Regions from separate parts of the Homo sapiens genome. Here region 1 is linked to region 2. Evidence: fine-mapped expression QTL. A gene starts in region 2. The other region holds a variant in brackets. All regions are shown on one strand. Distances are from middle to middle.

Region 1 (9,089 bases), 120 kb before region 2:
TTAAAAGAGAATACAAAACTTTGAACAGTCCTCAACACAGTGCTTTCTGCAGCACCTAACATCTATTCCAATTTACTTGTCTATACCTCTGGCCAATGTATTATTTTTTCCAAATATATTTTTATAAGGAAAGCAATATTTTAAGTCAGAGCAACTAGAAAAGAATTGAATCAATCTAATTTCTATAAAAGATAAATATTTGCAGCAATGAAAATGCCATGCTAATAGTTGTCTGCTTGCTTTTTTACAAATTCAGCTTATCAATCGATGTATATATTGATGATGATATAATTTTAAAAATCCCTTGGGAGATCTCATGAATGAGGTTCAGGGCATATCTCTGTGCAACTAGATTTATGCCTTTGGACCAGTAATTTAACTACTTTGAACTGCTGCCTTCTCATCTCTAAAGAAAGAATTTTGAATAGATGAACCTCAAAGTTTTTGCAGCTATAACACGTTATGATTTCACAATTTCATACACTTATCTCTGTTTGGAATACAAATTACAGTATTCAAGGAATCGTAAATCTAAGGGAATATGTTAGAAAGATGAAAGAATGCTTTCACTGAAGAAAGTAGGATTGCAGAGTGTATAGGTCTATTCTGTCTTATAGTTAACTCTGGATTGTCTATATTCTGGCCATATCCTACTAGATATCAATTAATTGGTCATCTCTCTAAGTAGAATTCCATTTCTGAGCCTGGGAAAGTTTCTTCACTTTCCTATATCTTAACATCTTCACCTGCAAAATGAGGATGATGATAGTATTTTCAGAAAATAAATCGGATTGTTTTGACAGTTAAGCAAATTCATACAATATATTTAGGGTTGAGCCTTGGACATAAAAGGTATTAGGGTTGAGTAAGTGCTCAATGGATGTTAGCTTTTATTATTATTGGTTGTTATTTTTATTCTAGCTTCTTTCTGTTCCCTTTGTTCACTGATTTCCAGAGACAAAGGAATGACTTCTCAGTGGATTTGGGCAAAGCATTGAGCATATGTAGTTTGGCATTCTCCTCTTGCCCTGCCATGAAGTAAGCAGCAGCCTCAGCAGGAAAGGCTGTGAATGGGGTGGTATATTTAATGCAGAGGAGGGCTAGCAGGGACTCAGAGTGATCATGTCAGCTCTGTGCTGATGTTTGATTTCCTTCTCTCTAAATTCCATATCTTATTTCTCAATTTATTTAGAACTTAGGAGAGGGAAAAGGAGTTTTGTTTTTGGCTCATTTAAACTACAGAATATCAGTTCATGGACTTGGAGTCAAATTTGGGCAGGTAAGAGTTTTACACCTAAACAGCTCTGTCATGGACAGCGCTGCACAGGCACAGGAAGAGGACAGCATGGGCATCCTGGTGACAGAATGAGTCTGGAAGACAGAGAGAGAGAGCAAGGGACTAAGTCAGCAGGCTCAGTTCTTTCTCCAAATTCGTCAGTCAGTGAAGTTGTTCTTCAATCTCCTGGGGAAGACAGATGTCAGGGAGAATCTACAAGTGTATCTCCTATAGATTTTCTTTGGAAAAGTAGGACATCTCCCTGCTTTGTGGAATCGGGAACAATGGCAGATATTTGTTTCTCTCCCTGCTCTTTACTCACACAAATGAATGATGGACAAATGAACAATAGGATCTGAGCTCATTTTATTGCCTTGAAAGAACAAAAAAGTTAAAACCAACTCCCATGATATAGTAAATCAGAGTAGAATCAATAAAAATGATAATAAAAATGATTATAAAAATGATTAATGAAGAAAATTCCCCATCCCTTTCCCCACAGGACCTGCTCCACACATTTTTACTCCATTTCAGTGCTGAGTTGTCCTTCTTTGACCCTTTATACTGCAAAGAACTTCACTTCCTATTATCCTGAGAAATTTGAGCTCCCTCAATTTCCTTCTTTTCAGCATCTTTCTCTCCATTGTTCTATTTCTTTCCTTCCTCTCGCTCTTGCTTCCTTGTCATCTCTCTCTGAAGTCCCGTGTCTTTTGCTTTTGCTTCCTGTGTAACACATTGTAAATTCTCTTCTGTCTTCTCCATTCTACCTTAGATCATTTTCAAAAGTCGTTACTGTCCTTTACATAGTCAAATATAATGGCCTTTTTTTTCTGCTGAATAAAAATTACATAAAACTATTCAATGCATTTTGTACTATTCAATGCATTTTGACAAATGTACGCACACCAATAAGATGTAGAACATTTTCTTCAGCCCAGAAATTTCCTCATACACCCTTCCAGTGAATTCTTACCTCTCATAAGCAATCAATATTCTGATTTCTGTGTTCTTTACAAATTAGTTTTACCAATCCTAGAACTAAATAAATGGAATATGGTATATACATTTTTGTGTCTGTCTTCTTTTGCTTAGCATATTTTTTGAGACTCATATAACTGTTGCATTTATTAGTAGTTCATTGGTTTGTTTTTTGTTTTTGTTTTTGTTTTTTATTGAGACAGAGTCTGGCCCTACTCACCCAGGCTGGAGTGCAATGGCATGATCTCGGCTCACTGCAACCTCCGCCTTCCAGGTTCAAATGATTCTCCTGCCTCAGCCTCCCGAGTAGCTGGTATTACAGGTGCCTGCCACCACACCCAGTTAATTTTCATATTTTTAGTAGAGATGGGGTTTCGCCATGTCTGCCAGGCTGGTCTCGAACTCCTGACCTCAAGTGATCTGCCTGCCTCGGCCTCCCAAAATGTTGGGATTGTAGGCGTGAGCCACCATGCCTGGCAGTTTTTGTTTATTCTGAGTAGCATTTCATTGCGTGAATATGCCCTAAATCATTTGTCTTTTCTCCTATTGATGTACATTTGGGTTATTTCCAGTTTAGGGCTATTATGAATTAAGCTACAATAAACATTATTGTACAAATCTTTTTGTAAACATGTTTAATTTCATTTTCATTTAAATTTCTAGGAGTAAAACAGAAATTTATTTCTCATAGTTCTGGAAGTTGGGAAGTGAAGACCAAGGTGCTGGCAGATGTGATGTCTGGTGAGGGTCTACTTCCTGGTTCTTAGAGTGGCACCTTTCTCACTGTGTCCTCACATGGTAGAAGGGGCAAGGAGCTCTCTGGGGCCTTTTGTAAGGACATTAATTACATTTATGAGGTTTACCCCATCATCATGACCTAATCATCTCCCAAAGGCCCCATCTCATAATACCATCACATTGGAGATTAGATTTTAACATATGAATTTTGAAGAGACACAAATATTCAGACCATAGCACTGTCATTTCTCCAATACCATATGATCTTGATTATCTTGATTGCTGTAGCTGCATTGTAAGTTTTGAAATCAGGTAAAGTGAGTCTTTTGATTTTATTCTTTATAATAGTTTGGCTATTCTAGGTCCTTTCAATTTCCATATAAATTTTAAAATTGATTTGTCTTTTTTTTTTTTTGTTTTGTTTAAGATGGGGTCTCACTATGTTTTCCAGGCTGGTCTTACACTCCTGGGCTCAAGCAATCCTTCCACCTTGGCCTCCCAAAGTTATGGGTTTACAGCCATGAGCCACAGCACCCAGCCCAAGTCAAGTCTTATACAAAAAAAGCTGTCAAAATTTGTATTTGAATCTATTATTGAATCTATAGATCAATATTAAAAAGTTGATATCTTAGCAATATTTTGCTTTTCTATACCTGAATATAATATATCTCTACTTTTATTTAAAGCCCCTTTACATTCTCTCATTCATAATTTATAGTTTTCAGTGTAGAGGTCCCTCATGTCTTTTGTTATATGTACTCTTAACTATTTCATGAAGGTTTTTTTATACATTACTATAAATGGAAATCTTAAACTTTTTATTTTCCAATTGTTTGTGGCTACAATATGGAGATACAATAGATTTTTTAAATATTGACTTTGTAGTTTGTGACTCGGCATTATTTCTACTAGTTTTGTTTGTTAGTTTGGATTATCTCTCTTTAACATTTAAACTTTTGACCATCTCTTTAATTTTGAAATTTTCTTTTCTCACACCTTCAGAGATTCCTTGCTAATCTGGTTCTTCTTCTACTTCTGTGTTCATAACTTTGCTGGGTGCCTTTAATTTTTAATGGTCAGTTGTTTATATTTCTCAAGAATCTTTCTGTTGGCTTCCTCTCTCTTCTCTCTGCCCATTTTCTTTTGTTGTTTTTCCTATCAATCCCAGGTATTCATATGGCTTCTACTATGTACGGAGAGATCTGTAGAATCCTCAAAATTCCCTTTGCTAGCACTGATGACTTCCTAACCTCCAGTCTCCCATTTTCAACTGCCTAAAAATTTAGTTCCCTCATTCTTACATTACTTCAATCTTAACACACTTCAACCTTGAGATCATTACATGTTTTCACTCTTAGCTTTGCAAACAGACACACCTGCATTAGAATTTTGACATTGTTACCTACTAGATAGGTAACTTGGGGAATTTATTTACTGCCTCTAATGCTTTATTTTCCTCACTTTTAAAATAAGAGTAGTAATTCCAACCTCAGAGTCATGTTGATGATTATTAAATTTAATGCACAGGCATGTAGTTGTGCTTAGTAATGTTAATTCCCTTCTGCTTCCTTATTCATAATATTTTTCTTAGCTTACTATTCCCTCTTATTGCCCTATTTTATAAGTTCTTTTATTCAGGGCCAAATTCAAAATGTCAGTTCTTTAGAAAAACTTGCAATATGCTTCAGGAACCATATCTGCAATTACAGACTCAAATTTCCTTAACCTTTTTCTCCTTAGCCAATGGCATTTGCTGTTCTCAGTTTGTGGCTCTATTTAATATCTCCTAAACCAGGGCATCCAAAAGGGCAGAATTTGTGGCTGATTCATCTTTGAACTTCCACAGCAATTGAGCAGTACTCATATCTATTTGGTACTAGGTATATTTATGTCTATGTATGCTTATGCCTGTTCCTGTATTGATCTATATACATAGGTATGTCCGTGTTCTCCTTGTCCTCTAGCTTTCTCTTGGGTATGGCCAATGTATATGTATAAAGAAAGGAAATATAATTTTCTTTTTCTGAAATCTAGGTTTTGATTACCTAACATACTTTTAACATAAGCCATCTGATTACAAAAGATCTTTAAAAATTAAATTTCAGCAAAA[A/C]CTTTTTATACTCATGATCACAATAGTTGTAAACACTTGACTGAAGTAAGCTCAGAAGAGCTACAAAAAATAAATTGACACATGGCTTCTGCTAAGTTGGGCCTATATAGTGGACTCTTATTCTTGTGAGTTTCATTCATATACTTTGGTGTTTTTTTTTTTTTAGATTAAAAAGTCTTACTTATATGAGTATAAATTATAACCAACTAGCCAGCATTCCTAGAGAACTTTGTTTTCTTGAGAATCTTGTTGAACTTCAACTTAACTACAATCAGCTGATATGCATACCTGAAGAGATTAAATTCTTGAAGAAGCTTCAGAAGCTTTTGCTAGCCAGAAACAACATTGGAGTTTTGCCGGAGGTAAGCAAAACATGGAACCACAGTAGTTTGCTGTTGGAGAAGAACTCAACATGATGGGAGGTGGTTATAGATTAGATTTGGGTATCTGAGTATAAGCCACCACTTGCTTTCTCTCAGATTAAATGTAGTCAGTTCCCAAATCCCTATGACAGAAGAAGGCTATAATTTGAATTATCCCACATAGCTAGGGCTGCCAGATTTAGTAAATACAAATATAGAATGCTCACTGAAATTTGAATTCCAGATAAGCAATGATTAAATTTTTTACTATAAGTATGTTGCAAATATTGCATGGAATAGACTAAAAAACCTATTTATTGTTTGGTATTTCTTTCTTTCTTCTTTTTGAGACAGAGTCTTGCTCTGTTGCCTAGGCTGGAGTGCAGTGGCACAATCTTGGCTCACTGCAACCTCCACATCCCGGGTTCAGGTGATTCTCCTGCCTCAGCCTCCTGAGTAGCTGGGATTACAGGCAGACACCACCATGCCCGGCTGATTTTTATAATTTAGTAGAGACGGGGCTTCACCATGCTGGTCAGGCTGGTCTCAAACTCCTGATCTCGTGATCCGCCCACCTCGGCCTCCCAAAGTGCTGGGATTATAGGCGTGAGCCACCGCACCCAGCCTTGATATTTCAATTTAAGTGAGCATTATATATTTTATCTGGTAACGATGTATACAGAACAAAATACAAGTTCATTTTGGCTTTGGAATATGTACTGGCTCTCCTTTTTTCCTTCATATTCACTTTCTGTCCTGCCTTCTGCTTGGGAGACTGACCTGTGTGGGCAGCAGTGAACTTCTTTGTCCTCTGGTTTCCTCTTGGATATGGCAGATGAGAGGCACTAGCAGGAAGTGACAGGGCAGGAGGATAGCAAGTAGTTGATGGTATTCATAATTATGGAGACTGAGAAGTCCTACAGCAGGCTATCTGCAAGCTGAAGACCCTGGAGTGCTGGTAATGTGGCTGAGTCCAACTCTGAAAGCCTCAGAACCAGGGAAGCAAACGGTGTAATTCTCAGTTGGAGGTCAAAGGCCTGATTACTGGGAGGTTGTGGTGGTGGCTGGAGGGGAGGGGTACTGGTGTAAATCTTAGAGTCTAAAGGCTGGAGAGCCCAGCGTTCTGAGGTCCAAGGGCAGAAGAAGAAGTGTCCTAGCTCCAGGAGAGAGAGGAAATTACATTTTTTTTTTCATCAAGTCACTAACTGATAGGATGGTGCCCAGCAACAGTGAACATGTATCTTTCCCACCCCTTCTACTGACTCACACACCCATCTCCTCTAGAAACAACCTCACACAGACACACCCAAAATAAAGCTTTACCAGCATTGTAGGTATTCCTTAATCCAGTCAAGTTGACACCTAAAATTAACCATCACACTAGACTTCTTATAGTTCTATCCCAAACAACTGTTTGCTCTTAATGGAACATCATTTGTTCCAAATAACTCAGAGAATCTCAGCTTAAACTTCACTTTTTCCAGGAAGCCTTTCCTGACCTCCTAATACCAAATTTTCCATATATCACTGTTTCCTTAACCCTTCGTAACACTTCTCATTCTCATAGCACAACTTTGTCCTTGCCTATTTGTGAGTTTTTAAACCTTCATTGAATACTTGTGAGGGGTATACACATGCAAAGATTTGAAAAAGACAGCAACAAATATCAACAGCAATAATAGTGGCAGTCATGGCAGCAAAAACAAACAAATGAAAATGCAAGAGTCGACAGCAACGGAAGTAATGCTATGAAGTGTTTTCAAGTAGGGTGGAAGCCCTTATATCATAACATGAGATACTGAAGGAACACATTGGAGTCTGAAAATCTCTGCAGCTAAAACAATACAAAGGAGAGTATCATGGCAATGGAAGACTATGTAGGACTTAAGAAGAGGACTCCCTTCAAGGATTTGCTGCCTAGCTGTAGGGAATGGGGATTGCAGACAGCCTCTAGCTGTTAGCTCTTTCAGTAACTTAAGTAATCCATTCAACAACCGTATGACTTAAGGGCTTCTATTAGCATTTTCATTTTACAAATAAAGAAATTGAAGTACAAAGCAATTAAGAAATTTGCCCATAGTTATAGTACCTGCCAGAGGTGAGATTTCAACCTAGATGTAGTGTAACTCACAGTGGCCATGTTATGTTGCCCTGGAGTGGTCAGAGGAAATGAAGAATTCAAAGAGCTGGCAGTCCAGGATATGGGGGTCTGCTCGGGAAGATGTGCTGAAGAATTGGTCAGTACAGTGATTAGAAAAGATGGCCACCTTCATCATGTTGGAGCTTTAAAAAAATTTATGATTTTCCTTATGATTTTAAATATTAGATTTAAAAAATCTCTCTCTTCTGTTTTCTGACACAGGAACTTTGTGATCTTAAAAAACTAAGAATCCTAGACATAGCTGGAAATATTATTCAGATATTTCCATCAGGAGTAAGTAGAGTCAACTTCCATTATAATTGAAAAATAATTTTGTTTATGCTATTGGGAATAGAAAAAATATGGGCAGACAGTAAAACCTGTAGTAATTGAAACCTTAAATTATACAAATGACTCAAAGATTTGCTTTTAGAATTTCAAAACCTGTTCTCTCCTGTTTTTTTCTTTGTGTTCTGTGCCTGCTGAACTTGTTTGAACTAAGTTAACTCTGATTGCTATCACAAATATTTTAATATATCAGCTATGATTAAATTTTTTGGTTATTACACACTGCTTTTGGTCACCTCTGGCTTTTTGAAAATATTACTTTCTGGAGCATAAATTTTTATCCCTTGTAATTAATCCAAAGGTGACACTTTTGTTAGTCATTTTTAGGCCATAAACAATGAAAAATGCACTTTTTTCTCATTTGAAAATGAATTTTGACCTCATTTTATTTCAAATATGGAGAAACCGTTTGTCTTGGCAACTCCTAACTTTTGAGAAAGAAATGTCAGTTTTTCCTATTGCATTTTTATATCCAATTGAACATGCTTAAACATTCATGGTAATAATGAGAAGTCCATCTATCCAGAAGGTATTCAATGAATAGTTGTTGACCCATTAATTATTTTTCCTGATTTATCCCCTCTAAATTGAGGTTTCAGTCTTTTTTTACCTCCTAGAGCAATATTTTATACTGAAGGTAATTCAAATATAAAAAAATGAGTGTAAAGTCTATGTTTTAGAAAAAAGTATAGTTTTTAAATTGTGGCAAAATATACACAACATAAAATTTACCATTTTAATCATTTCTACTTGTATAGTCCACGGTACTAAGTACTTTCACATTGTTGCACAACCATCAGCATTATCCATCTCTAGAACCTGTTCATCTTCTCCAGCTGAAACTCTGTATCCATTCAACTCCAACTCCCCATTCCCTTTGTACACCTATTTTAGAAGTTCCTATAAATACTTTGAAATAAGATCTTTCCCCCCTTCATGGCAACCACATATCTACTATATATCTCTGAATTTGACTACTCTAGGTACTCTAGGTACCAGATAAGTGGAACCAGATATTTGTCCTTTTACCACTGACTTATTTCACTTAGTAAAATATGACTAACATTAATTTATCTTATACCATGTGTCAGAGTTTCTTTCCTTTTTAAGGCTGAATAATATTCAGTTGTATGTATA
Region 2 (9,089 bases):
CAATTATGTAGTCCTTAGGGAGGTGAATTTCCTAAATGTGTATTGGGTAAATCTCTTTTTAAGCATCTTCAATTCTTCTTAAGCCATGATACGGCCATAGTTTATTTTACTTATTTTTTATCAGTTGTTAGTCAGAAATGAGACAAGGCTTTTATTAATCCTCAATTAATTATTTTTTACTGCTTTCTCCTTTGCCTTGCCTTTTCTTCTCTTCCTTTCTCCTCTTCCTTTTCTTCTTCTTTTCCTTTTTCTTCTTTCTCATTTTCTTCTTCCTTTTTCTCCTCCCCTCTTTCCCTCTTTTCATTCTTTTTTTATGATTTCTTTGAAAATGTCTTATATTATTGTAAAATGTGTTTGAATATATAAGTGATTCTTTCCCTAGGCATTTTTTTTTTTCTTGCTGCTTTTTTGTGTTTGTTTTTGAGAGAGGATCTTGCTCTGTTGCCCAGGCTGGAATGCAGTGGCATGATCACAGCTCACTGCAGCCCCGACCTCCTGAGTTCAAGTGATCCTCCTGCCTCAGCCTCTTGAGTAGCTGGGACCACAGGCATGAGCCACCATGCCCAGCTAAATTTTTCAATTATTATTATTATTATTATTTTGTAGAGATGAGGTCTCACTATGTTTCCCAGACTGGTCTCAAACTCCTGTGCTCAAGTTATCCTCCCACCCCTGCCTCCCAAAGTGCTAGGATTATAGGTATGAGCCACTGCACCTGGCCCCTAGGCATTTTGTGACTTCACTTGATTTATATTCTTTTGGCTCCTATTATGTATCAAAATAGATCACAGAATATGAAATAATAGCAGAAAGAAAAAAACACACTAAAGAAACTATTGGAAAGTTTAATCCAAAGAAAGCAAAGTAAGACATGTTGGCAATCATTGTTGAGAACATAGAACTTTGCTCACTCTACTGTACTGGTTGGCCTATCATGAGAAAAATATTAACGGCACTGTTCAGGACTGTAATTAACTTATATATGTGCGTCCATATTTGAATGTAAGAGTATTTTTTAAATAAACAGCACCATAGAATATCAGAACTCTTTAGAGGTTTACACTAAATTAATTAGGCCTGAAGCTGAGGAACTAATTATGTGTTATGTGTCATTGGGATTGGGCTCTTAAGTAGCAGATTTTGCCTCAATAATTGGGGAAAAAAAGTTCTAACAATCACAATGTTAGAAAATTGGAATCGGTTATTTTTCTAGGCCTTTTAATTTTAGAAATCGGAAGAATTAAAGCAGAGGTTGGATTCAGGGATGTGCCTGTATGAAACTTTGGGTAAATTAAGAAAAAAAGTACTTTGGTAGACTTGATACAAATTACGCAATTGTGTGGACGTATCCCCATGCCAGCTATGTGGCTTGGTGGGTAGAGTATGGCCTTCCTTAGTATCAGCCTTCGTTTTCCCTCTCAGATGGGAGCCTTTTACAGTGTCTTCTTAGAAATGCTGTAGATCAACTTCCTGAGGTAGGTATGAGTTTGGGGTTGATAACTTCCAATGTCTGATCTATACTTTTCATTGTAACCTCGATATAAATCAGTGTCTTAGGTGTCCCAATCTCCACAGAGACCACATTCAAAGAAGCCTCATGTCAAAACCAAAAATACTGCGAGAGAATTTCACTCTTTACTAATGTCTCTCAGAAACCATTAAATGTGATTCAGTTTATAACCTGCACAGCATTTCTCAAAAGTCTGTTTCTTCACTTGAGCCTGGCCAAATTCCCTCACACTTCATAATTGCCGCAGAGATCCTCACATGCCAACCCTCTACAAATTCTCTCTGAAGCCCCAACCCATGAGGGTGTCTGTCTATCCTTTGTCTCCTTTATTTCTTCCGCATTTCCCATCTGGTTTTTCTTCTCTTTGTGCTCCAGATTTTATAATATTAGAAAAAATAACTGTGTTGAAAAAAGAACTTTCCATAGATTGTGAGAGAACTGGGAGAAGCTGAGCAAACAAAGATAAAATCTCATCTTATTTTTCTCCTAGAACCTTTATTCTCATTTTCTCTCCACCTGGTTATCTGATTTTTTAAGAGCACAACCTGGAAACCAGGATGAGATAGACTAAATGATTTTTGGGTACTTTTGGATGAACATTTGTATGTTAATACTTACTGTGTGAATCCAATGTCTGCAGCTCCTTCTGCTAAATTCTAAAAAAGAAGCAAAGCAATTTATGTGAATAATCCCTACTCAAAAGGAATGTACAATCTCATGAGTCAGACTGGATAAAAATCACATGAAATAGATTTAAAGGAGGAAAACCAATAAACAGTGAAAATGACTACAGCTCTATACACACAAATACACTGAGAGTTACCTGAATGTTCATTACACAGCATAAATAAAATTGTGGAGAAACCAGGGAAAGTTTCGTGGAAGAGGTAAACATTGAGTAAATGTTTAGAAGATGTAAAATACCATGTAACTAGGGCCATTAATATAGAAATAGACTAGTGCACCTGTAATCCCAGCTATTCCGGAGGCTGAAGCAGGAGAATCGCTTGAACCTGGAAGGTGGAGGTTGCAGTGGGTGGAGATTGTGCCATCGCACTCCGGCCTGGGAGTTAAGAGCGAGACTCTGTCTTAAAAAAAAAAAAAAACAAAACGGAAAAGTAATGGCCAGGACATCATGAGTATAATTACCTGCTACAACAGAGAGTCTCAGCAGGCTGAAATACTTTTGTTTTTCCCCGCAAAGGGAATGCCACTCTCCATCCTCTGAGCTCCCGTATGACTTATTGGGTGATTTGACTGTTATTTATCACATTCTGCCTTGAGTTAGTTATACATGTTTTGATTTTCTTCATTAAATAGTAACTCCTAGAATACAGAGGTAGTATCTACTCCTTTTCCTTCCCTTTTCTGTAGCACTTCACACAGAGTCTAGCAAATTATCATTGTTTAATAAAAACTTGCTGAATTAGAGTTAATGAGAAGCTAGTGAGTAGAAGGTGGGAAGGGGAGCAGAGAAGGACTGCATTGCTTCCACTAATGAGTTTAAGTTTGATATTGGAGATAACTGAAATTCAAACATATCAGTGATGTAATCAAAATGAGATTTTACAAAAAATCTTTCTGTTAATCCATGTATGAAGTAGAAGATAACAATTTCATCTTTTTATTTGTATAGGTATTATCCCAGATGTTTAGGAAGAGATATTCCATATAGATGGTACATACTGTTGAACTGTAAGCTACTTTTAGTCATTGAAACTTTTGAATGAATACACTTAGCATTCTTGAATTTTGCAGGCTGTTCAAGTTACTCTGAGAATCTTATGTGTGTGAATAAATTTCCTCATAATGTTTTTCTTTCTTTCTGGCATTGCTGATTATAAATAGGCATGATCCATGCTCTGGTTTGACATGTTTTAAATAATATGTATGCACATGGAAATTGAAAAAAAACATCTGGAATTGGAATTCCAGATTTAAGCTTCAAAAAAGATTTTTAGGAAAGATTCATTCTAATTTTAAGAAATTTTTAAATTGAGAGATTTCAGAACTATTTTGTTAATTTCTACCCTCTCTTGGTCTTGAAATGTTTTAGAACAATTGCTGGTGCTATATGATTTAGGTACTTCTATTTACCTTCAATTCATAAAATCCTGTTCATGTGAATTTTTTGTTATGGAATTTAACACAAATTTAAAAATGATTGAAATTACACAAATGATAGATGTTGATTGGTGATTTCAGTTAAGCTTTCAATTATTTTTCTCATATTGTTAACATACGTTAGAATTTATGACCTAGATAGGATTTGAAAAAAAATCTTGTGTTTATTTTTATTATAAAGGTAATACATAATCAGTGTATGTATAGCTTCTGAATTTCTTTGCGTATATAATAAATGGAGTATATAAAACAAAAGTAAAGATTGCTTTTTGTGAAGGAAAACCAATGTAATGTTTCAAGCATGAATTTACAATTATTTGGTGAGTTCATCTCTCATACCAAGAGGATAGGATTAAAATGCTACAACTTGGTCTCTAAATGGGGCTCTCTCTACAGGCCCCAAACCTGAACTATTGAATGGTTTAGAAATTTAATATAATGTAAAAACAGTTGGACAAACAAAGCAGTTTCTATTTTGTAAGTATAAATAAATTCCCCCCCACCCCGCTGCGTCTCTTCGTTGGATTTAAAAAGAAAGGTATTTTTGCACAGACACAAAGCTAGAGATGTCATCTTTAGAAGATGGAGAGCAACTCTTCACTTTAATTTAAAAACAAAGGGAAAAAGTGCAGCAGGAGGGATCCAAGTACTTTGTTATTATAAAGGCTTCCAGAAATCAGATTTCTATTCTCCAAACAAATGGGCATTAAAAAGGACTCAGCAAACTATATACATGGTATTCTTTTCCTTGGCTACACAATTTTAGTTAGTATGTTGCCTTTTTGGTTTAATTCCAATGGCACAGTTCATAGATTTAAGTTTTTCTTTTTCTTTTGGAGGCTAAGCAAAATGATCATAAAATAAAAATCTTTGACAGTCTGTTCTATTATAAAATGTAACACCCCTTATTAAAAAGAGAACACCTACCCCCAAAAGTTATACAAAAAGAAGGCAGCACCATAAAAAAAGCTAAGGATACTTCAAACAATAGTTTGAACCATATAACATTCCTCAGTAAATTTCAGTTACAGTAGAATGAATTATAGGACTTAGAGAAACCATCAGAGAAAACTGAATGAACAGTTTCAGAGACAGGGAAGATCTCCTGTCACAAATATGTGCTCATTGTGATACTTATTCTCTTAGCCCATGAGATGAAATTTCAGTTTGTTTATGAGAACTAGTTACTCCTTTCCCAGACTGGGCAGTAGCTATCTGAATGTTTCTGTATGAATGAAAACCTCATCTGCCAGGGAATAAAAATGGTAAGGACCTTTAGCAATGCCCTGTTATGTTTCTGAATTTTGTAGAACTGGCAGTCATCTGATAATGTTGAAAATATATAGCTCTCAAAGAAATAGGGCTGGATTCTCTGAATATATTTTGCACAATAGATCCCTCTGGCAGTTTTATGATTTTGCACAGCTTGTAGAGAGAGACTGGACTAGCTGGATATTTCCTGGTTTCATTAGCATAGCCCAGCCCACTTCCAACACACGCCCAGAACTACCTCATTAACCATTGGGATTGCAGCCAAAAACATAAGACTACAGTGAATATAAGGGGAATTACTGGCGAGAGAGCTGTAGACCAACTTAACACTGAACCCATTACTTTTCCAAGACCAGAAAAAAATATTACATGAACAGGAACTACTTCTCCTTCAGATAAGAATTCAAGGTTTTAATCTATAGTTTTTAAATCTAGAATAATTAGCTGTATCATAAAAAGACAGCTGCATATATTGAAGTGCTTCTGTTAATCTCTCTCTCTCTCTCTCTTTTATTTACTTATTTTCTGGGCAGCTTTGACATTGTAAACCACAGACGAATTGGAGCTTGGCATTGAAAGGAGGTGTTCTGCAATGATTTTTTTTCTTGTTTAGAGAAGTTTACTTCTACAAGAAGAAATCTGAAAAATGACAGGAGCAAAGAGGAAAAAGAAAAGCATGCTTTGGAGCAAGATGCATACCCCCCAGTGTGAAGACATTATACAGTGGTGTAGAAGGCGACTGCCCATTTTGGATTGGGCACCACATTACAATCTGAAAGAAAACTTGCTTCCAGACACTGTGTCTGGGATAATGTTGGCAGTTCAACAGGTGACCCAAGGTAATGTATTGCATTTGAGTTTCCTGTATTATGCAGAGTAGATGTCACTTTGCTTCCTTGGAATAATACTATGACCTAGAATAAACAATTTAGCTAAATAAATGGATATTAGCTGTGGGGAAACAAGCATATTGGATATATTTGGAGAAGAGTTTTCCTAATTGTCTTTTTTCCTCTGTATTTTGATAGCTATTAAGCATTGAATAAACTTTTGAATGACATTACATTTTTTCACTGTTAAAATTCACACTGTTTTAGAGTGAAAGATTAGTAATTATGGGAGTGTGAGTTTTTATAACATGATCTTATGGATATAGTTGCCTACTTTCACTGAATCAAGCTATAAAATACTCCTGGCTTGAACACAATCGTTTTGGAACCTAATTAGCAGCACACAATTACCTGTTGTAGCCTTGAGAGTTGCTATAAACAAGGAACAAAGCTTTCTGTACATAAAGGAGGCTCTTTGCCAAGATTGGTATTTGCAAAGAGAATCCTGTGTGTCCTGAGAGCTTATGTTTTACTGTCTATGCTGATTTACTTCTGTATCACATTACCTACTACATCTATTTCTCAGTAAGATATTTAAACTGGTGAGAAGTCTGATTTTAACTTTCCCCAAAACAGACTAAATGATATTCTGGATTTAGATAGGTGTTTCTATTGGCAAAAGCTACCGACCTAGTGTGCATGTGTGTGTATTTGTTTGCCTTAAAGATATATCCATTGCAGTTCTTGGCTAATTCAAATAATTTTCTACCTGTAGCAAGGAAAGGAACTAATTTCTGAACCTTGAGAATTTAGAGCAGTTTCCTTGGCATAGACACTGCAGGCTTATATTTCCTTGCAGTTTCACTACCTCCTTGGCTTTAACTATTATTTACACTGTTAAATTATAAGCACTCTTTTAATTAAATTATTCTGTAGCTGGAACAAACTGGTTTGTGTATTTGTGTTTTTGGTATAATTAGGAACATCTGCACTAGTGACTTTAAGATCCATAATACTGTCATACTTTATAGGATTCCATTTTACTGAATAGTCTTATATTTTTAATGACCATTTTGCCAATAGAAATGCATAGTAATCTTTCAGAAAAATGCAAAGTAAATAACAGCTTTGGGCATTTTTGGACTTGCTTTTATTCAGTTTTAAATTCCAAATGAAACAATACCAATGTACTTTGAAAACTTAAGTGATGAATTTTTTTTTTAACCAGATAGTTTCAGCATGCTATAAATTTATTTTGCTTTAATTTAATGTAAAATGAAAGAGAATTATGTTTTTAAAAATAATTTCTTTTTTTACCTTTGGAAAATATCAAGTTAATAAGACAATTTGAGGATAAGATAAAGTTATCTATGGTGTATCATTAGTGATACTATTTATGTATAAGTTTCAGTAGTTAATTATATGGCTTTTATTTGGGTATAGATTTTGAGGGATTTTGTTTTACGAGTCATGTATTTCACTGGTTATGAAGGGACACATTGGCCAGCCCCAAGACTGATGAGAAGCACAACACATACTCAGCCCTTGTGTCTTGGGAAGTTATGAATCTGGCTGCTGATTCTCTTGGAAGGCTACCAGTGAATGGATAAGGCTGCACTACAAAAACGTTTTTGTTTGTGAAATTTAAGACTAATTATTTTTAAAATGTCTATTCTTTTAAAAACAATTTTCTCAAACTTTTTCATGCTCATCTACTACGTATAGACAGTTAAAAAGTGAAATGCCATAAGCTACCATTTGTTGTAAGAGGCAATGCCCTAAACCCTTACATACATTATCTCCCCCTATCCTAACAGAATCCCAAGACACAGCAGTCTCCTCTCCATTTTCCACAGGAGAAAATGGAGGTTTAGAAGAGTTAGAAATTTTCCCTGGACGTCATACCTGATAAGTAGTGGAGTCAGGACTTGATTCCAAAGCCAACACTCAACATTTTCACTTTATAGTCTACACTGCCAAAATAACAAGACTTTTCATAACACCAATGTTATTAGTAATAGAAGACATTTCTTTGGAAAGGTGTGACTATCCTTCCCTTCAAATTGCTTTTGCATTCAGGTTTCATCCCTGCAGTTTTTAGATTCAAAGGCAAAGTGACAAGAAAAATAACTAGAATAGGATACAGAGTAAGGAAGGCATTTAGATATCATTACCTCTTGTTTGTCTGAATACAATATTGGCAATTATTATCAGCTCAATTTTCTAAGGAAAATTAGAAGAAAGAGGGATAATTTTTGTTCTTGCATCATAACGCAAACAATAGGCTCAAGCACCTTTTTTTAGCTTTACCCATTTTTGTAGCAGCTTTTCAGTTACTCAGCATAGTTGAATTATATAAAATTGTCCAATTTACTGTTTCTTGACCTACAAAGATAGAATGTTTATGTTTCAATCTAGTAGTTGTTTTTCGTTCTTCTTTCTCAAGGAGTGCATTTAAATTAAGGATAATGGAAATTCATTTGAGTGTTTTCTATATGTCAAATAGCAAGAAGCTGTTTTAAATTATTTTAATAAAGTAAATCTTTACTTTATTAAAGATTTCCTAATTGTTAAATATAGATGCTTTTCTATTATCAGTAGCATTTTCTGTGTTGACTACAGTCTTTCTGAAATCCCTTATTCTCTTGGTTTTTAGACACCACTCTTGTTTTTCTCCTGCTACCTGTCTGTCCTTCTCTTCTTATGATTCTCTGCAGATTTTTTGCCTCCCACCAAACACTGGTGTCCTGGAGATTCAAACCCTGGCCTTCACTAAAAGCATAAAAGATGCTAATCACCCCCTTCATGCTAATGAAACTTTCTTCTCAACTTGAGATCTACATATTTATTTATTAATTTTTAAAAACCAGCCAGATTATCATTAAAATGTGATGTATACACTGCAAGACTACCTTTTCCAGCTTTCTTTGAGGTTAGGTGTTGCCCTGTGATTATATTTTGGCCAAGGGAAAATGAGCAGAAGTATACTTCTTCCAGTCCTAGCCTGTAAAAGTCATGTATGATCCTCATGTCCCCTATATGCTGGCAGGTATTAATGCCCAAGGCAAATTTGGAAGCTATGTATTGGAGGTAGCATTGACTCTATCAGCAGCCTTGGTTCCTGAGTGACCTTGGAGATCCACATATTTAAATATGCTAACCTAGAATGTTCTAAATGTACTTCAAATGCTGTGTCTTCAAAACAAACTGAATGTAACCTCCATTCGAACCAGAACTATAATAATAACAACAGTAATTTTTAGGCACAGATGCAAGCAGTATTGTAAGAACACTTGACATATATACAAAACTGAAGTTGGGAGAGGACAAACAACTTGCCTAAAGTCACACAG

Alleles and levels. Positions count from the first base shown, and alleles are read on the strand shown. Sizes are in standard deviations (SD) of each study's normalised expression.
For the expression in spleen of the gene that starts at base 5,220 in region 2, C is the low allele of the variant in region 1 and A is the other (moderate effect, 0.70 SD a copy in GTEx).

The links. PIP is the estimated chance that this variant, and not a neighbour inherited with it, causes the effect. A credible set is the group of variants that fine-mapping cannot tell apart.
Region 1: its variant is the best candidate, but not a certain one, in a credible set for the expression of SLC26A7 in spleen (GTEx, PIP 0.69).

The regions. Positions count from the first base shown.
Region 1 is chr8:91,127,842-91,136,930 of GRCh38, forward strand. LRRC69 (leucine rich repeat containing 69) reads left to right here. Exons shown (of 8, transcript NM_001129890.2): 4 at 5,269-5,464; 5 at 7,827-7,898. Among named protein-coding and RNA genes, the nearest start is that of LRRC69, 30 kb to the left of the region's middle. The variant A/C (reference allele first, on the strand shown) is at 5,103.
Region 2 is chr8:91,244,100-91,253,188 of GRCh38, forward strand. It overlaps SLC26A7 (solute carrier family 26 member 7), which reads left to right and starts at 5,220. Exons shown (of 19, transcript NM_052832.4): 1 at 5,220-5,314; 2 at 5,440-5,745. The coding sequence starts at 5,553.